Homo sapiens: one gene and its partners. The protein of the gene in region 2 interacts with the protein of the main gene of each other region in a pairwise test. Each region holds a gene or a part of one and is shown on either strand. Other genes may lie near its edges.

Region 1 (7,556 bases), on a different chromosome or scaffold from region 2:
CTGGAGAATGGCCAAATAGGTTATGTCCAAGTTTTGAAAACCTTTTACTGCTATTTATGATAATAATGGATATCTAGATATTTAAAATGAACCTCTGGTTCATTTTTTTTAAAGGGGGCACGTATTAAATTTCAAGGACTACCTAGAACGAACTCTTTTTGTAACAGGATCTTACTCCTCTCTGCCTGTCAGAGGACAGACACCTCATTCAATGGTTAGAAATTGATTATTCCAGAGGCTGCATCCAGCTCACAGATGTTTGGCTAGCAGAGTGTTTTCAAATAATTTTAGTCAATATTTAAAGATTAGGAGATATCATATAAAAATCCAGATTCTTGGCTTCTGTTTTAAAATTGGGAAGTTCTGGCCAACATGGCAGAATTGACTTAAGGTAAAGAGAGGTGCCCTCCTTTAAACAGGCCGTGGCTTTCCCATTTAAAGTTCCCACCCCTCCTGATAGGCTCCTAAACGCCAAGGCAAAGTGATTTCCTTATGGTAAAGAAAACTGTGAACCACTGCTTGTATCTATGTTTCTATCAAAAATGAGAAAATGGGCCGGGCGCAGTGGCTCATGCCTGTAATCCCAGCACTTTGGGAGGCCAAGGCAGGAGGATCCTGAGGTCAGGAGTTCGAGACCCAGCCTGGCCAACATGATGAAACCCTGTCTCTACTACAAATACAAAAATTAGCCAGGCATGGTGGCAGGCACCTGTAATCCCAGCTACTTGGGAGGCTGAGGCAGGAGAAACCAGAAGGCAGAGGTTGCAGTGAGCTGAGATCGTGCCACTGTACTCCAGCCTGGGCAAAAAGAGCGAAACTCCGTCTCAGAAAAATAAAGGGGAAATGAAAGACAAAGAGGGCCCAAGCATTCAACAAAAGATGAGAAATATCCTATTTCTGGAAATGAAAACTATTACCACAGGTCTAATACACAAAAACGTACACAGATTCATTTGCATTAGGTGACTGGCCCCAGAGGGATATTTCAGTTTACAAATCCTGATTTATTCCATTTAGTTCAAGTCATAGTAAATACTGTCACTAACAAGAATCTTTTCTTACACCCCTCCCCTAAAACTCTGATGCCCCACTGTGAATCATTATGAACGAACTGCACTGAGAGCTTCTGTAGCCTGGAGAACCCTTTCCAACTATTCACATGTCTCTTTGCAAAAAGCCTACAGTCTGAAATGGCAATCCCTTACGATACAAGCATTCTCATTCTCCTTTTCATTTTTCCTTTGTTGCAAACTGACCAGTATTTTGTTTTCATAGGAGAAGGAAGTTTGTGTAAATGGAGGCTTATGCTCTAAAGCACCTTTAAAACTTTAAAGATCTGAGTCCAGAGTACCTTATATTTAAGCAATGTAGCTTTAGGCTTTAAAAGGAGTCTATTCTTTTGAAGCAACCAAATGGCAGATAAGTCCTTCAGCTCTCCAAATGTAAATAGTATACCGTTTTTAATTCTTATTATTTTTACAGAACATGTGAAACTGATAAACTACATTACTACTTTTTTTTTTTTGAGACGGATTCTCGCTCTGTGGCCCAGGCTGGAGTGCAGTGGCTCAATCTTGGTTCACTGCAACCTCCGCCTCCAGGGTTCAAGTGATTCTCCTGCCTCCATCTCCCAAGTAGCTGGGATTACAGCTTTTTTCTAGTTTTAGTAGAGCTGGGGTTTCACCGTGTTGGCCAGGCTGGTCTTGAACTCCCGACCTCAGGTTATTTGCCCGCCTCGGCCTCCCAAAGTGCTGGGATAACAGGCGTGAGCCACCGCGCCTGGCCCATTACTAATATTCTTATTCAAAATTAAAAGCATCACTGTAATTGCTTTACAAAGCTATATTCGCCTCACTTATCTTTTACCAAGACAGATGGAATAGTTACATAAAATATAAAGACATTTTGAAATAGGTGTAACTAGTCCAGAAGTGGTGGCCTGTATTGCCAGCACTTTGGGAGACACAGGTGGGAGGATCACTTGAGCCTAGGGGTTTGAGACCAGCCTAGCAACACAGAGGGACCCCTATCTTATACAAAATAAAAATTAAAAAAAAAAAGAAATAGGTATAACTCGAATTATCACAACAAGCATTTATTAAAGGCATTGTTTATACTATCATGTTAGTAAGTTAAATCAGGCTATGGAAGTTAAGTAAACACAACCATTCATAACCATTCAGAGGATATGAGTTTTGGATTTCACAATGGTATGGTTTTAATTTCCTCTGACTAGATTACAGAGAAACAACTTAGAACACTCAGACTTACCATAATAGGTGCTTGCAGTCATTGATATAATCCAGAAAGCTAACGAAATGCAAATGATCAGGCTCAGTATAACTATATTAGTTATCATCTTTATATATCTTTTGCATATATTGTCGTTAAGATCTGTCATGGAAAATAAGGATATGAGCTCCTGCGGGAAAGAATATTTAGCGTTTCGGAGAGAAAGTCATTTACGATGTGAGCAAGACACTTGTTCAGAGGCAAACATAAATCCCAACATATTCCACCGACCAAACAAGCATAAAAATCACAAAAATTCAAACTCCTTCCGGAAACTCCTACTGGCGGAGAGCTCCAATTCATATGGGCGTGGTCAACGCCTCACCGCAAAAGCAGAGCGCAACCCGGCGGACGGTGAGGGCCGGTCGCCGGCTGCCGGCCGCTTCAGCGCCTCACGCCGGAGCCCACGGGGAAAAGAGAAAGCCGAGGCAGCCAATCCGCGGTCCCGGCGCTGGCGAGTTCCACCCACCTCCCGTCGCAACCTTCTCACCCGCGGGCCGGGTAGGCCAGCGGCTGCAAAGGGGCAGCTAGGGCACCCGAACTTGGGCAAGTCTGGGAAGCACGCCCGACGCGGCTGAACGCAGTCACGTCCCGACAGCTGCGCAAGCCGCCCTAGGGTCAGGTCCAGCCGGCCAAGGCCGAGACCCCAGGAGCAAAGCCCGCGCCTCCCGGCGCCCCCGCCTCTAGCGCCTCGCCCGCTGTGGGCATGCGCCGCAGCCGCTTAGGGGGATGTCGCCTAGCTCACGTGGGCAGGCACTGCTGGCATCCTGGCCGGCTGCGTTTGCACTGCTTCTCCAAAACCACATTATAGGTACTAAACAACATTGTTTAGTACCTATAATGTGCTAGACTCCTGGCTGCTAGCGAGGTAAAGTTAAACATAGTTTCTATTACTGAGCTCTCGTAATTATTGTCATAACACCACTTAGATTGTGGAAATATCTGTCCTCACACCCCTTATATTAAAGGTGTGTGCATTTAGAAAGCAAAACGTCTTGTTAGCATTAAAAATCTGAATCGTGGCTGATTTCTTTTCTTTTCTTTTTTTTTTTTTCGAGACAGTGTCTCTCTCTGCCGCCCAGGCTGGAGTGCAGTGGCACGATCTCTGCTCACTGCAACCACCGCCTCCCAGGTTCTAAGCGATTCTCCTGCTCCAGCCTCCGGAGTAGCTGGGATTACAGGCGCCACAACCACGCCCGGCTAATTTTTATATTTTTAGTAGAGACGGGGTTTTGCCATGTTGGCCCGGCTGGTCTCGAACTCTTGACCTCAGGGGATCCACCCACCTCGGCCTCCCAAAGTGCTGGGTTTAATGGCGTGAGCTACAGCGCCCGGCCTGATTTCATGTTTTATGTGAAATTAACTTGTTTGCCTGGGTTAACAGTAATTAACTGATAATTACATAATATTTATCAATTTTTTCAGTTAATTGCTGACAGTGTAAGAAGAGGAGCCAAATCCATTTCAGACACAGTATGCAATTGTGTTTTAAGCCCCAAGAGTAGTTACTTTAAAAAAGCTCACATTATTTTAAATTTCAAAATACATGCCAAGACAGCTTGTCATTTTCTTTGGTAAGACATCTAATTAAGTAGTTAACTAAGAATCAAATCTGTGAAGTAGGACTAAATAGTAGTGGGCTTCCTGTACTAGATAATATACATATATGGTCTTTATGCTGAAATGTATTATGTGCCTACTTTATTTTTGTCTTAGTCTGTTCTGCATAGGTAAATGTTTGGATTATTTCACCAAGCTGACTGGCCAGTATCAATGTTACCAGACTACTGGGTAAAATTATTAATAATGAAAGCTAATGTTTTGTGGTTTGCACAGTCGCATTGTTTTTGTCTCTGCTTAGACAAAATTATAAACTGGTCTTTTTTTTTTTTTTCTTTTTTTTGCCTTGCTTCACCACAGTCACAGAGTGACCCTCTCTGATTAGTTGGTGTTCGATAGGAAAATCATAGCCTAGTTGTGAATGTCAAGCTATCTCCCAACACTGTGGTGTAGCTGTGTCAGGTCAGTCCCTGGATGTCAGGGATGATTTTCTCATGACTATTAGATCTGGCTAAAAAATGCATATTAAATAGTAGTGTCAGTGAACTGACCCTTTAGATGAATATTTTCCCTTCTATTTTTTTCAGTGACCAATTATAGATGTTTTTCTCCATAAAAGTTATTCTAGCTTAAGACCAAAATAATTTAGAGGAGTTAATATAATTAAAATACAGTAGTTCTTATATGCAATAGGCAGTTTCAGTTACCAAGGGTTAAACATGATCTTGAGGCAGGAGAATAGGGTCTCCTATTGAGGCAGGGAACCTAAGGCCGATTCATGCTGACTTCCTAGAGCTAAATCAAAAGGAAAACCCCAACTTCCCATACCTAAGTAACAAAAGGACCCAAAGCTACGCCCTTTGCAAACCCCTCTTTTTTTCTGCGTGGCAGATAGAAAATTGAAAGTATCTCTGCTTGGTAGCTTTCTGCAACCAATCAGACGTTTGCGTAGGAGTGTAACTTTGTAACTTTGCTTCAGCCTCTAATTGGTTGTTTTTCACAACCAATCAGACTGATTGTGGGCTAGTACTTCATTTACATTTACATAAGGTGTACACCAAGTAACCAATGGGAAACCTCTAGAGGGTATTTAAACCCTAGAAAATTCTGTAAGGAGGCCCTTGAGCCCCTATGCTCAGATGGTTCCCACCCTGTGGCGCGTACTTTTGTTTTCAGTAAATCTCTGCTTTTGTTGCTTCATTCTTTCCTTGCTTTGCTTGTGTGTTTTTCCAGTTCTTTGTTCAAAACACCAAGAACCTGGACACCTTCCACCGGTAACAATCCGAAAATATTAAAAAGAAAATTCCAGAAATATTCATAAGTTTTAAATTGCATGCCAAAGTAGCATGATGAAATCTCATGCCATCCAGCTCCATCCCACCTGGGACGTGAATCCTCCGTTTATCTAGCATATCCATCCATGCAATAGACATTACTCTCTTGTTAGTCACTTAGGAGCCATTGCAGTTATCAGATGGACTGTTGCAGTATCACAGTGCCCTTATTTTAGTTCTATTACAATATATTGTTATAATTGTTCTATTTTATTATTAGGTATTCCTCCTAATCTCTTACGGTGCCTAATTTATACATTAAGCTTTATCATAGGTATATAGGAATTGGAAAAAAATAGTATATATAGGGTTTGGTATTTTCCAGGGTTTCAAACATCCACTGAGGGTGTTGGAATGTATCTCCAAGGATAAAGGGAGTGGGAGGGGCTCTTGTATACTTTTAAAAAATCACGATTTTACTGTTACAATTTTTATAGACTATCAATCTTAAAAATTTCAACAAAGTCTTTGTTTTTCTATTTACTTTGGAAGCCATTTTCTGGCAATGGAAAATTTCTGGTTAGGCATTTCCTAAACTATATTTTTTAACTTAATAGTAGTTATTCTTTGTTATTAGTAGGCATCCCTACCACTCAAAAGATACCTGTGATCAAATTTAAGGTTGAGAAATGTTGTCTCTACATGGGATAGTTAGAGTGTATTATTAATGACTCTAAGAAGTTAAGAAACAAACACATTTGTTTAAATGGTTCCAACAGTTAATTGTCTTCATCAGATTTATTTCCTGTAGAAAACATGCAGTTTGAGACTTACTATAGCAATCATAGAATAAACTGAAAGTTCATTGTTGCGCTGATCTTTAAATTTCACAATATAAATACCCATTTATGGTTAAGTGCTCTTTGATATAAAGTTTGGATTTTTCTATGATAGACATTTATATTCAATACCAATCACAAAAATTATCCTAATGTCAAAAAGCACTTACTGTGTGATAGGAAATTATCAGATTTTATTTACAATCCCTTTGAATCTAATTCAAAGGGATTGGTTTAGATTTTCTGAAATGTGCGAATATTTGAGTGATTTGAGTGCCAACACACATACACCACATGTGTATGTGTGGTGAAGGAGCATAGCAGATGAAAATGGACATGTAGACAATTACATTATAAAAAGATGATGACTTTATCCAAGTCATATATAAACAGGACTCAAGGAGAAAAGCACTTATGTCACTCTGGTATGTTTAGGGATGGTGTCACACAAGAGAGGGGAGCATCCAAGGTAAGAATTGAAAGATGACAAAGAGTTTGCTCAGTGACTAAGCTAAACAAGGGCAATTTGTAAAGGTTTGTTTGGTGGTTAAAAAGAACATGAAAATAGGAAGTTCAAGAGAATGGAGAAGAGTTAGAAATAACACATTTTGGAGTGTTTGCTAAATAATTTATTAAACTGAAAATTCATCTGAGAAATAGACACCTCTTTTAAAAAATTTTTAATATAAAAATAGAGGTGAGGTCTCACTGTGTTGTCCAGACTGGTCCCAAACTCCTGGCTATAAGTGATCCTCTTGCCTTGGCCTTCCAAAGTGTTGGGATTACAGGTGTGAGCCACTGCATCCAACCAGTATATGCCTTCTTGACATTAAACCCGAATATTTTGTTTTTTAAATGTTTGTAGTATAGATTTTAAAAGACTAGGGAGCAATTTGAAGATGGATTTGTTGTATTAGGTTGAGCTCATTCTAAAAGGGCCTTAGGGAGAGGGTGGGGAGCAATTGAGGGCAGGAATAAAGAAATGGAATACTGTTTTCCAGTAACCTTGAGGACGGACACCATGTCTGTCTGGCACATCCTAGTTTGATCAGTGTCTCTTAATGAGTGTTAAGATAGTATTTTTTGGGCTGGGTACGGTGGCTCACGCCTATAATCCCAGCACTTTGGGAGGCCAAGACGGGCGGATCACCTGAGGTTGGGAGTTCCAGACCAGCCTGATCAACATGGAGAAACCATGTCTCTACTAAAAATACAAAATTAGCTGGGCATGGTGGCACATGCCTGTGATCCCAGCTACTCAGGAGGCTGAGGCAGGAGAATCACTTGAACCCGGGAGGTAGAGGTTGTGGTGAGCCGAGATTGCGCCATTGCACTCCAGCCTGGGCAACCAGAGCGAAAATCCATCTCAAAAAAAATAAAAATAAAAATAAAAAAGATAGCATTTTTTGAATTACAGTATTCGAAACAAGTTTTTTTTTTTTTTTTTTTTTTTTTTTTTTTTTTTTTTTTAAACAGTCTCACACTATTGCCTGGGCTGGAAGTGCAATGGCACAATTTCCGGCTCACTGCGAACCTCTGCCTCCCCTGGTTCAAGCGATTCTCCTGCCTCAGCCTCCTGAGTAGCTGGGAT
Region 2 (7,024 bases):
CTGGTGATCTATCTCATGTGGAAGCTCCCCACCCTAGTGGCATCTCCCATAGGCTCCAAAGCACTCTCCCTCCACAGAGAAGACGCAATCACAGAGGAGCCCATGACATCCACCCTGCCTGGGCCTAGTGCCCGTACCAATTTGGTGCTGGGCAGGCCAGGGGGCCAGGAGGCACAGGCCAGACTTTCCTGTCTGGGGTGAAAATAACTGGTACCTTATCTGCAGCAGACTCATCACCTTGTTCCTGTTAATATCAAGGTCTTGCCCAAAAGAATAAATAGTTTGGACAAGAAGCAATGGAAACAAAAAGTATCTAACAGGGAGGAGAGGACTCACAGCCTACCAGGGATTCAGCATTATCTTCGAGAAAGCTGCTGACTGGATGTGCGTCATTCTGTTATGAAATCTGAAACAAGGGAGACCCCCAGGGGAAGCCAGGATCTTGGACGTGCTGGCAGCAGCATCACATACCTATCAGCATCCACACAGCAAACCGGACCCAGGTGCCCTGGTCCAGCTGCATCATGAGATAGACGTTCACGAAGATGCTCAGGATGGGGAGCACTGGCAGGAAGGGAACCTGAAGAGACAGGAGGTGGCTTCAATCCATGGCAGTGGCGCCGGTTCCAATAGTTCAGTAAAACTGTCTAGTAAAGGCAGCACAACTGAGAGTGACAGGGACCGTCGGGCGAGTGTGGGGAAGAGAGAGGGAGTGCCCACCCCCACTCCCACACCCCACACACAGCCCGCACCCAAACACACACACAAACACACCCAAGGGTACATCTTAGTAGGTGGGGATTTGATTCTAAGCTCTGAATGGCCAAATGAACTCCATTCTCATTTTTCTCTGTTGCGATTCTCCTGCTAAAGAAAGGACTAGAAGACGGACCTCCACTTTACCTCTAAGGTCAACAACCTTTTTTATTATTTGTGTAATCTAAAAATGCAGAAGCCTTGCCCGTCTCCAAGGCTTGGAAAACTCATGCATCAACTTGAGCAGACATTTACGAGAAGCATCCCACCACCCCGGAGGGACTGCTCCACTGGGTCTGCTATTATGTATAAACTTAGGGGCAAGTGGCTTCATGAGCAGCACCCTTGATACTGTCTGGGGAAGAGGCAGCACATTTCATAAAACACTGATCACAAGGGACATTTATTTTCCAGAGAATTCAGAAATAGATGCCGAATATCCAGGGACTGGCGAGGTCTCTCTTGGCCTGTGTCATGCAGGAAGGTGTCAGCCTGCCCTTGACTACTCAGGGAAACGTCCAGGGGAGAAGGGCTGCTGCCTCCTTCCAGGGTCTGGTCCTCTCTGTGCCTTCAGGACCCCTGCCCCATCTTACCTGAAGCTGGCTAGCAAAAACCTTCCTCGGGAGCACCCAGGCCCGGCTGAGCCCACGCAGGGCTGGCCAGGCATCAGGAGGGCCAGGGTCTGTGTACCAGGGTTCCTTCCCTAGGCCGAGCTGCTCACCTTAAATGAGAGCTTGGTCTTGCTCTCGGGCTGCCTCCAGATGACGCCCGTGACCACGGCACAGAGGAGGGCAGACCCTGCGAGCAGAAAGACTGCCCACAGCGCCCCTTTGGTGAGAGCCTCCCTTCCAAGCACGGTCACAATGCAGAAGGTGATGATGAGAACAGCTAAGGGGGAAGGAAAAGACAGCAAGCTGCAACTCAACCATTTCCCAATTTCCCACAGGCATCCACTGTTCTCCCCTAAACTTGTGGAGAGAGAGGCTCCATTTCCGAAGGCACAACTACAGTTAACACAGAGTAACTATGTCCCAGTCCAGGAGCAAGACAGATGCTCATCTTCTCTGGCACCTTCCCCCAACTCCAGCTCCACTGCCTAGAAACCATGCAATGCCAACAAGCAAGGCCCCAGGGAAGGGCTAGCTCTTACCTATGAGGCTGGTTGAAATGTTCACAATTAGCCCAGAGATTTTGGAAGGCTCCATGTTTTTGGGTGAGAGTATGGTTTTCAAAGAGAACATCTCTGCCTCTGGTAAAAAGCCCAGCTGGGAATCATTGGTGCTTGCCAATTCATTTTGGTCTGCTGGATCTAACTCGTCGGAAGTACTGGCCATCTGGTATACCAGGTTAGGCTGCTCTGGCTGGTACCTGGGAAGAAAGGCATTGCGTGACCGCCACATCTGCTTCAAGCAAAATGACGTGCACCAACTCAAGTTCTCAATAAGCCTCCAAAGTGAGCTGCCCGGGACACAAGGTATAAAATGGGAAGGATATAGTCAAATGCTGCATTGTAGATAGACGAGGAGAGACCGGGAACACCACCTCCCGCTGTTGCTTCTGGGGAACATCCTCCATGGTCTCTCCTTCGGGGCGACATGACCTCCACCATGAGCAGCCCAGAGGAATACCCTGAGAGGATCTCTCTTGCTCTGAGAAGTGGCAGCGGCCCTCAGATGCTAAAGATACTAGGCCACTTCCCACAAAATTACTGCTGTAGGGAGCAAAAGGGAAGGAGAGAAATAGGAAGCAGTAATGCCAGGATCCTATTTGGCACAGAGAGCCAGAGAAATGTGGCTGCAGGCTAGATGGATTTGAGAAATTCTATTTGTGTGACTTAATTGGATCAATTTATTTTAAAACTCCAAGTACCTTAGGGTAAATAATTCTATGTGGCTTGTTGGAGGGCCGAGCCTGCAGCGTGATTTCCAAGACATGAGCTACCTGCTAGTGGAGCATCCATTCTGAATGAGGTGCCTTATCTTCCCACCCGAAATGAACAGAGTGCAAATCTTTTCCACCAGCTTTGAAACACAGAGTTCTGTATGAATTATTTTGCATATGATCAATTCTAAGAGGGAGTATAAAGATATTAACCATTTTTGTATGGATTCACTTGTGCAACCCCACTCGGTCAATTAAGAAAGTGGGAGACCTCAGAGAATATTCTAGCATTGGGCCCCTTGGGAGGAATAAGGGGTCCCCAATAGTCTTAGCTGATTCTAAAGAGCTTCTGCTAAGGCTCAGCCCGGGTTTTATGTGCATCAGCTGCTGAACACCTTGGAAATGCAATCAATGGCCTTGCAGGTGGGAATCCCTGAAAAGAAATGAGGAGGCTCTTGAGGGGAGACCAGTGCTGAGCGTCTCCATGAGCACAGGTTCTCAGGATGGAAGCTGCGCAGGGATGTGCTTTGGGAGTGGGTGCTGAGGCAGGTGAGAACACCGAGACACCAAGCCTAGGCCCAGAGCAGCTTTACTGTGACTGGGAGAGGCTTGCCTGGCCCCCACCAGGCTATAACAAGCTGACTCCACAGTGTCTCTGAACATCAACCTAGGGCACGCCATGCCACATAATGGGATTCATTCCTCCAGCCACAGCGCAACGAAGCTGCAGAAGCATTATGCTGAGCTGGGTTTCACAGGCCTTGGGTTTTCCTAACTCCTACCAGGGCAGCCCTCAATCCTCTCTGTCCCAAGAATCTGAACCAAGTTGCAATCAGTCTTCAAACCTTCTGATCCCAGGATCCTGGCCTAATAGTTGGACCGAGAATCTGTCTCTATCCACCCAACATTTAGCCATAAAAATGAGGGCACATGATAGAGGGGGGTGAGGGGCCACCCAACTCTTGCCAAGGACGTCCTCCTAACTGGGCTCTCAACCCAGGTCCTCCCCTCTCCTTGGCAGCTCCCAATGGAGCTATCACCAACCTAAAAGTTTCATTCATCACATAAACCATAGCTGAACTGTGAAAAGGCTACCAGGTGCATCTGCATTTCTGTCATGAGACCCCCAAAAGCCATACATACCGTAAGACCAACACACAGGCAGCCACCAACGAGTAAGCCAGGAGAGTGCCAATGGACATGAGGTCCACCAAGTCCTTCAGGTCAAAGAGGAAGGCCATCACAGCTGGGAAGAGACAGACACCAGGATCTGTGGAGGGCCATCTGCATGCAATGACAACCAGGACCACCACTGCCGCCCACCATCCAGGGCAGCGAAGGGGGCTGCTTTTACTCCCACCCCCTCCCTGGCCTTCCCATGGAAAGACACAGCTTAAAGGGAAGTCAAGCTTCCCTTTAAGCTTGTGATTAAATCACAGACACAGTCCTCAACAGACAGTAATCATCATTAACATTTGTATAGAGAATCCCTTCATTCTTGTGATTTTAATGGCAACTTTGTAAGCCATCCCTACATTATAGATATAAACATTCACAAAGGTTAGGAGACTCATCTAAGGTCACACAGTTCACAAGCATAGGGTATAAGGATGTGAACTGGGTTCTTATGACTCTGAGTCCTGTGTGTCTTCCTCTAGACCATGCTGATTCACAGACTCATGTGCATCCATCCATCATCCATCCTATCGGTCCATCCATTCTCCATCAATCCATCTGTCCACCTATCTTCCATTCATCCACTCACCATCCATCCATCAATCCATCTCATCCATCTGCCCATCTCCCATCCATCTCATCCATCTATCTATCCATCCATCCATTCATCCATCCGATCCACCCATCCATCCATTCAGCATCTATCCATCTACCCATCTTCCATCCATCCAGCTCCGGTCAGAGTGTGCCCATCATTGGGTTCTAGGTACTCACTATTGAACAGGGCAGACCACAGTCCCCAGCCTTCCTGAGTGTACCCCACCAAGACACAGGCATTAGTGGACAACAGTGCTGGGTGATAAAGAAGGGCAAGTCTGGTGCTCTGGGAGGACTCACAGGAGGTCCTAACCCAGGCAGGCGGGCAGGAGAGCAGAGTTCTTCACATGTGAAGTCACTTCACGTGGAAGAAATCTGAAGAGTTGTTCTCAAACAATATAGTATCAGCCCCTTCACTGTGTCCCTTGCCTTTAAAATGAATTAAAACCTGCACCCTTATTTGAACATCTTTTGTGAGCGTTGTGAGAGTATACGTGTCTATTCACATGGGTGTGTATGTCAAGTACTCATTAAAAAACAACTTGGCTACATCTGCTTTGGGATATTTTCAAAACACATGCAATCAACACAAGCTAAAATATAAACACAAAGCCATTATTTTTCCACAAATATCTCTCAAGCCCCTCTAGATCACTGCAACTAAAACAAATTTAAATGGAGAATAAAACACAAAATTAAAGAGCAATGAGGGAGGGCCTTTTGGATAATCAGAACAGCGCCCAACTGTGCATGCCACAAATGCCGATGTTCCTACTCACGGGAAACTTGAGACTAATTTCTTCCATGTGAGGTGATTTTAGAAAACCAAATACTTATTTACCACTCCCACCAAATGAAAAGGGTAAATCCTGGATTTTGTGAATGGCATGTACTTTACAGTCACTTCAAAGAGCATGATTTGATCTCCCTCTATCAGCAGGGGAAGGAAATTAAGGCCAGTCTTTAATATGATCAAATTCCACGTAAAGCCTGAGAAAACAATGACTATTTCCAAGTCCTTAATCCTGTAAATATACTGGTCACATTCTGATGTATAGTGCCTCTCAATCTGACCACTGTGGTCACTCTCAAGAGCATAGAATCACATAAGAAAATGTTTCATAATTTAAAAATAGGTGTGTTTTATTATACAATATTAATCCACAAAACTAAGCACAGTTTGCTAAAGGCATAAATGCTAATAAAACTTAGTGAATAATTCATTCATTTAAGAAGGTCAAGTGCCTTACCAATGGCTATTTGACAAGTCGCTGTGTTAGAAACTGTGACTGATCTCACATGCCCTAATTTGCCAAAAAGACCCACTGCTCTGCTCAGACTCTGGAAGGAGCTTGGCTACTTTGGCATAAAAACAACCCTGGAATCACAAGGCCGCTCCACCGCCCTGGGTGCACATCCTCGCTTCACCTCCCTGGGCCTCCACTTCTACATCTGTACAGTGGGCTGACGTCTGCCTTTTGGGGCTACGAAATGCAATTGCGAAAGGGGCGGGCGTCTGCCTCTCGGGGCTATGAAATGCAATCGCGAAAGGAGGAGACATAGACCACAGGTACAGTGTGCACACGAGCTTCCTTGTAGGTTCTCCTTTCCTTCATCTGGGGCCCTGGAACACCTACACGGCTCAGATTAGTCCACTGATTTCATCCATCAAAATGGTCCTCTCAGCGATGAGGCTCATCTGACAAGATGAAACTCCACTGGGTCTGCTATTACGTATAAACTTAGGGGCAAGTGGCTTCATCAGCAGCACCCTTGATACTCTCTGGGGAAGAGGCGGCACATTTCATAAAACACTGATCATAAGGGACACTTGTTTTCCAGAGAATTCAGAAATGGACGCCGAATTTCCAGGTACTGGCGAGGTCTCCCTTGGCCTGTGTCATGCAGGAAGGTGTCAGCCTGCCCTTGACTACTCAGGGAAACGTCCAGAAATGGGGAGAAAAGGTTTTCGAATACTGTGTGTTCTAAGCTCCGCCCATTGAGATGAAAACCAGAGTGCAAACTGTTCAAAAATTCTCTCCCATCCTCTGTCAAACGGGCCTCTGCCTTTTGTCAAAAGGTCAGTCAACTTTCAATGAACCAGGCTCCAAGTATAAAAACCAGGAGTTAAAAAGACCAGTTAAGATTACTCACAGACCAGAACTGCGCAAGACGTCTCCCTAGGGAGTAATGACTCCATTGTTAAAACATTTCCATGTGAAATGAGTTCTAGTACTCACCAGCAACGGCACCCGAGGCTAATGTGGCGATTATTGGTGTTTTGGTCCTATCATTGACGTTGGCTAAGAATTTAAATAGCAGTCCATCCTCAGCCATGGCATAGATAACCCGAGGCATGGGAAACATGGAACCTAGAAGACTAGATGGGGAGAGGCAAACCGCGTGAGTGAACCTGGCTCATAAGGGATAAAGGCACCACATCCAGCCATGCTCGGTTTACCACGGAGGAGAGGGAGTCTGAGCTCACCAAGAGCTGCCGTCCCTCCACGCTGGGTGAGGCCTGTGGCTAAAAGACTTGGCATTTAATAAATCAATCCCAGAAAGAGCACACACTGTGAATAAGGATTAAGGTAAAGAATAGGGAACATCTATC
Region 3 (7,024 bases), on a different chromosome or scaffold from region 2:
TGCCATGTTGCCCAGGCTGGTCTCAAACTCCTGAACTCAAAAGGATCCGCCCATCTTGGCCTCCCAAAGTGCTAGGATTACAGGTGAGTCATGGTGACTGCCCCCTCATTTCCTTTAATTATGAATGCAGACAATAAACCACAAGTAATATCAGCACTATCTTTACTGCCAGTAGAAATCAGACTAATCAGGTTATTTTACAGTTGTAGATTATCTTTAAATTATCGCTTTCACTCATCACTACTTTAAATTAAGGACTTATAGAACTGCTGCCATACTGCATGATTACAGCTTTCCTGTCTGCAGATGCTCATGTGATGGAGCTGGGCAACTATCAAGTAGCTCTGCATCTAACAGTCACTCAGCCACCAAACAGTGATAGTCACAAGGCTCTCCCATTGGGGACCAAGATACTTATGCTGCTTTCCAATATTTCCTATCTGCAAAATTCCCTGCTGACATATCTGAAAAAATATGTCTACACATCAATCCCTGGAGAAGTTTTATAACTCTCAAATTTATTTCTATCACCACAGGATCGAAGTGTATCATGTATCAGAATCCTTTTTTATTAATATAAATCGTATGAAAAATGTTGACCTAGCCAAAGATAAATTCATTGATCTTAAAACAAAACAGTTACTATGACTGGAGTCAAATTTGAAAAGTCTTGGGGAATTCTAGTTGTCCTTTAGAGAAGCTTATGATTCCTTAAAAAGCAAGCTACAAATGTGTTTAGGTACATTTGTAAGAAAATACCTTTGTAAATCAAGATTTTCTACACCAATAACCATCAAAACAAAAACCCAAAATCAACTAGATGTTTAACTTGACATACATGTTGCCTTGTTACAGACTACCTCATAATTTAATGTTCTTAAGCCAAGCATATTATTATGTAATAGCTAGCATACTAATGTCCTAGAAAATAAAATTCAACTCTAACTTGTTTAGGATTTAAATGTATTATCTCATTATTTAATGCACTGATAAAGACATACATTACTATATCACAAATTTGTTCTGATGTTTTAGTAACTGTATTTCAACAAAGGTGGTTTTCTCTTTGATCTTATGTACTATGTTTTATACATTTAAAAACAATATTCCAATAAAAGGTCCACAGTCTTTAGACTGCCTAAGGGCTCCACAGCAAAAAACTAAGTTAAGAACTTCTGCCCTAGACTCTCAACCAAATGTGACAACTTTAAGACAAGCAAAGTAATAAACCAATAAACACTTCTTTGCGCCACATGCCACAACTCACTAGCTCTCCCCACTTAGTTAAATGTTCACTAGAACCCAAGGAAGACAAGAGTTTTAGCACTAAATATGGCCACTGATACAGACTGAAATATTTGATCGTTTGTAACTTTCTCAACTGCAAATGTATTGCACTGCCCAGAAAGCCTTGGAGCCACTCACCGTCAGTAGAATGCACATGGGAGTTACCAATCTGGTCCACCAGCAACATGAAAACGAAGCCCAGAACGAGGGAAACACCAATATAGGCATGCAGCTGTGTGTGGTCGTGGCTGTGCTCATGTTCATGGACAACTGATTTTTCTGCTGCTTTGTCTGATGCAATCACATTATGTGTTTCACTTGCTTGGTGGTGTTTTCCTAGAGCAGAATAAACCATAAAGAGAAAATATGTTTTTCCCCTAAAAACATTTTCATGTAGGAGTTTCCATTCTTTGTATTTCAAGCTCTACTTACTTTACTGTAAAGACATCCACTTTTTATATTGTAATCCAGCCAATCATTAACTCCTTCAACTTAAAGTTCATGATGAAAAAATTCCCAAATGTCTTCTGCCTTTGGCATGCAGACCTTCTGACTGCCTATTATTCTCAACACCTGGGAAGTGGAAGCAAATCACCATGCAAGAAAGCAATCATATTCCCAAAGGGACACCATCCCCAAATATTCCTTTATCTGAGAAATTCATGCCAATCTCACCAGAAAATACACTGTTTTTTTCTGATGAAAATAGGCAAATGAAGAGCAGTAACAATGAAAATAATTGCAATCAAATTCATCTAGTTTATACCTAGGCTGAGATAAAAATGTAAAATAAGGAACAAATTGAGTAGAAAATTTTTAGCTTTATAAAATATCAGCAGACAATTGCCAGCAAGAAACCAAAAGGGCAGAGCAGTTTAAGAGGCACATCCTTCAGTCTAAATTCAGTTCTAGAAATATGGAGGTTGGGAGACTCTGAACTGCAGTAAATGATACCTGGCCAGCTGATAATCCCAGTTTACAGTAACATATTTGTCATTTAAAACATAAATGCTTCAAAAGGCCAAAAAGCTTATCTTTGCTATATTTCATGAATAGAGAATAACATACTAGACATTTATCATTTATAATCAGATTAAGCAGTTTAAGCCTTCTTTAAAAATTGAGACAAGGTCTCATCTTTCACCCAGGCTGGAGTACAGCAGTGGTGCAATTATGGCTCACTGCACCCTCGACCTCCCGGGCTCAAGCAATCCTCCTACCTCAGCCTCCCAAGTAACTGGGAAACCACAGGCAAGTACCACCATAACCAGCTAATTTGAAAATTTTTTTGTAGAAATGTGGTCTCCCTATGTTGCCTAGGCTGGTCTTGAAATCTGGGGCTCAGGTGATCCTCCCACCTTGACCTCCCAAAGTGGTGGATTACAAGTATGAGCCACTGTGTCCAGCCTAGAGATCCTGTCTCTTAAAAACAAAACAAAACAGGCCAGGTGCAATGGCTCATGCCTGTAATCGTAGTACTTTGGGAGGCCAAGGGGGGCAGATCACGAGGCCAGGAGATCAAGGCCAACATGGTGAATCCCCGTCTCTACTAAAAATACAAAAACTAGCTGGGCACGGTGGCGCGTGCCTGTAATCCCAGCTACTCAGGAGGCTGAGGCAGGAGAATCGCTTGAACCAGGGAGTCGGAGGTTGCAGTGAGCCGAGATCACGCCACTGCCTTCCAGCCTGGCAACAGAGGGAGACTCTGTCTCAAAAAAACAAAACAAAACAAAACAGTTTCACAAAATAATATCCAACCTTACAACAGTTACAATGTACTCTTCTGTTTCTTTCTCTGTCTCTCTCTCTTTCTTTCTTTTTGAGACAGGTATGGCCCTTTCACCCAGACTAGACTACAGTGGTGCAATCTCAGCTTACAGTAACCTCCATTTCCTGGACTGAAGTCATCCTCCTACCTCAGTCCCCCAAGAATCTGGACTACAGATGTGAGCTACCAAGTCCTGCTAATTTTTATATTGTTTTTGTGGAGATGTAGTTTTGCCATGTTGCCCAGGCTGGTCTCAAACTCCTGAGCTCAAGTGATCCGCCCACCTTGACCTCCCAAAGTGCTGGGGTTACAGGCTTGAGCCACCGTGCCTGACACTATTCTTATGTTTTTGAGACAGAGTCTCACTCTGTACCCAGGTTGGAGTGCAGTGGCATGATATCGGCTCACTGCAACCCTGTGCCTCCAGGGTTCAAGTGGTTCTCATGCTTCAGCCTCCCGAGTAGCTGGGTTTACAGGTGTACTACATGGTGAGTTCTTGCAAGATCTGATGGTTTTTAAGGGGCCCTTCCCCTCTTCATTTAGCACTTCTCCTTCCCGCGGCCTTGTGAAGAAGGTGCCTTGCTTCCCCTTTGCTTTCCGCCACGATTGTAAGTTTCCTGAGGCCTCCCCAGCCATGCTGAACTGTGAGTCAACTAAACCTCTTTAATTGACCTTTATAAATTACCCCGGCTTCAGGGCCTTTTGTGGTTACATATGAATTTTAGGATCGTTCTATTAAGGTTTATTTGGCTTACAGTTCTGCAGGCTGTCCAAGAAGCACGAATCTGAGGATCTCAGGAAGCTTCCAATCATTGCAGAAGGGGAAGAGGAGTCAGTATTTCACAAGACGAGAGAGGGGAGGGGTGCCATGCTCTTTTAAACAACCAGTTCTCTTGTTAAATTATAGAGGGAGAACTCACTCATCAGCAAGGGGATAGCACCAATATGTGCATGACGGATCCACCCTCATGACCCAAACACCTCCCACCAGGCCCCGCCTCCAACACTGGGATCAAGTTTCAACACTAGATGTGGAGGGGACAAATATCCAAACCATAGCAAATGCCACTGGAATTATGATAGGGGTTGCATTAAATCTGTAGATCACTTTGGGTACTACGGATATTTTAACAATATTAATTCTTCCAATTCATGAACACAGAATACCTTACTTATATTTTCTCCAATTTTTTAAATCAATGTTTTATAGTTTTCAGCATATAGATCTTTTACCTCCTTGGTTAAATTTATGCCCAAGTATTTTATTTTATTTTATTTTCTGATGCTATTATTATTTTTTTAAAAATTATACTTTAAGTTCTAGGGTACATGTGCGCAACGTGTAGGTTTGTTACATATGTATACATGTGCCATGTTGGTGTGCTGCACCCATTAACTCCTCATTTACATTAGGTATATCTCCTAATGCTTTCCCTCCCCCTCTGATGCTATTATGAATGAAATTGTTTTCATAGTTTCTTTTTCAAATAGTTCATTGTTAGTGTATAAAAATGCAACTGATATTTGTATGCTGATTTTGTATCCTGCAACTTAACTGCATTTGTTTATTAGTTCTAATTTTTTTGTGTGTGGAATCCTTAGGTATTTCTATGCATAAGATCATCTCACCTGAAAACAGAGACAACTTTACTTCTTCCTTTCCAATGTGAATGCCTTCTATCTTTTTTGTCTGCCTGACTGTTCTGGCTAGGGCCCCCTATATTTTATTTAATGTAGAGTAAAGTGACAGAAAAAGCCACAGTTAATCATACCTCTATAAAGAATCTGATACATGGCATTCTTACAGAACTGATAAAAATGAGTGGGATAATCTACATTGAGCCATGGCTGACAATAGCAGTTTTGACAATACATCACATTTATATTTTCATCTTTGACCCAATAGTCTACCTTCCTAAACATACCAATTCTAACAGTCCAAAGAATTTTGAGATGTTTTCAAATTTTGGCTGCACAGTAAAGTGCTGCATTACCCAACAATCTTTGAAGTTCTTAAAACTTGTTTCTATAGACAGTTTTTTTTTACGTGAAAGCTGATAATCATCTAATTCCAGTGATTTTAGAGCTATAATTACAGAAGAGTAAGAGGTTCCTTTTTACATTAATTAGTATTTAATAATGCTTATTAAAGCATCAGAGCACTTAGTTAACATGATATACTGAGTTCTGAAAACAATGTATTATAATTATAAGGTCCACAGAAGAACGAAACCATAGGCTGTAGTAACATGTATACAAACGTCTTTCTTGAAGTACGAAGAAAAGTTGTTTTGGTCTACAATAAAGAAAGAGGGGGGTCAGGCGCGGTGGCTCATGCCTGTAATCCCAGCACTTTGGGCGGCCAAGGCAGGTGGATCACCTAAGGTCAGTTGTTCAAGACCAGCCTGGCCAACATGGTGAAACCCCGTCTCTGCTAAAATACAAAAATTAGCTATGCCTAGTGGCAGGTGCCTGTAATCCCAACTACTAGGGAGGCTGAGGCAGGAGAATCACTTCAACCCAGGAGGCGGTGGTTGCAGTGAGCCGAGATGGTGTCACTGCACTCCAGCCTGGGTGACAAGAGCAAAACTCTGTCTCAAAAAAAAAAAAAAGGGTAAGGGAAGAGGGTAAGAAAAGAGAGAGTAAAGCAGCAAAAACAAAATTACAATGATATGTCTAAACTCATCAGTATGAAGAAAGATGTAAAAAATCTGGAGACAGCTTAGCTGAAAGGTAATATCATGGTTAAGTTACTTCACAGATTTTTTTGAGTTACTCTTCCCAGCACTTTGGGAGGTTGAGGCAGGTGGATCACGAGGTCAGGAGTTCAAGACCAGCCTGGCCAAGATGGTGAAACCCATCTCTATTAAAAATACAAAAATTAGCTGGGCATGATGGCAGGCACCTATAATCCCAGTTACTTGGGAGGCTGAGGCAGAGAACTGCTTGAACCCGGGAGGTGGAGGGTGCAATGAGCTGAGATGGTGCCACTGCACTCCAGCCTGGGCGACAGAGTGAGACTCCGTCTCAAAAAAAAAAAAACAAACAAAAAAACTTCTTTAACAGAGGTATTAACATTTTACATTTTAAAAGGAATGTTGGAGACATCTGATGCTGGCCATGTTACAGTAAGAGCATTTTGACGTCAATCACCCACTGATTACAACAAAAACTGGACAAAACACACCAAAAAACAACTACTTCAGGACTACAAAAAGTAAACAACAGCAAGTGAAGGCAAGGCAGCAAAAACTTCTAGAAAAACCCTGTCTTTCCGGCCAAAGGACCAGGAAAAGAGGTTGCTAAGAGGTAGTGAAGTACAGGAAAGTCTCCCCTTTTTTTCTCTACCTCCTCTTTTTTCTTTCCTGGTCCTGCCTTTAAGGCAGCCCCAGTTGCAGAACTGCATGGTGGCAACAAAGGCAGTTAAAACCCCATCTTTCTGGCCAGAGCAAATAGAAAAAGGGATCCCAGGCCGGGCGCGGTGGCTCACGCTTGTAATCCCAGCACTTTGGGAGGCCGAGGCAGGTGGATCATGAGGTCAGAAGATCAAGACCATCCTGGCTAACATGGTGAAACCCCGTCTCTACTAAAAATACAAAAAATTAGCCGGGTGTGGTGGCAGGCACCTGTAGTCCCAGCTACTCGGGAGGCTGAGGCAGGAGAATGGCATGAACCCGGGAGGCGGAGCTAGCAAGGGATCCCAGTGGTCTGAAGTGTATGGGGGAAACCTGGTTATGCTGTTCTGCCTTTTCTGCTGTTACTTTCTTTTGATAGAAGCCCAAGTCACATGGAACTATGTGGTGGCAACACATGTAGTGTTGCATGCAGCCACAGCTCTATAGAGAAACCTTGTCTTTCTTGACAGAGGACCAGGAAAATGGGGTCTGTTTGCAAAACAATGTGGAAGGAACACTGGAGAGGAAAGAGCTGAGAGAGGGGTTCTTTAATCCTATGTATAAACGGCACAAG

The links. The genes of interacting proteins can lie anywhere in the genome.
Region 1: the proteins of SLC7A1 (region 2) and TMEM19 interact in binary tests that used the Homo sapiens proteins (3 or more experiments, as listed by UniProt).
Region 3: the proteins of SLC7A1 (region 2) and SLC39A9 interact in binary tests that used the Homo sapiens proteins (3 or more experiments, as listed by UniProt).

Annotation. Positions count from the first base shown.
Region 1 is NC_000012.12:71,681,526-71,689,081, reverse strand, and holds the start of TMEM19 (transmembrane protein 19), read right to left. Parts: upstream 3,001-7,556; 5' UTR 2,402-3,000; coding exon 2,272-2,401; intron 1-2,271.
Region 2 is NC_000013.11:29,515,667-29,522,690, forward strand, and holds part of SLC7A1 (high affinity cationic amino acid transporter 1), read right to left. Parts: intron 6,791-7,024; coding exon 6,651-6,790; intron 3,884-6,650; coding exon 3,781-3,883; intron 2,125-3,780; coding exon 1,907-2,124; intron 1,645-1,906; coding exon 1,478-1,644; intron 581-1,477; coding exon 472-580; intron 1-471. UniProt on the Homo sapiens protein: High-affinity, low capacity permease involved in the transport of the cationic amino acids (arginine, lysine and ornithine) in non-hepatic tissues.
Region 3 is NC_000014.9:69,436,668-69,443,691, reverse strand, and holds part of SLC39A9 (zinc transporter ZIP9), read right to left. Parts: intron 1,861-7,024; exon of another isoform or gene 1,720-1,860; intron 1,624-1,719; coding exon 1,426-1,623; intron 1-1,425. UniProt on the Homo sapiens protein: Transports zinc ions across cell and organelle membranes into the cytoplasm and regulates intracellular zinc homeostasis. Participates in the zinc ions efflux out of the secretory compartments.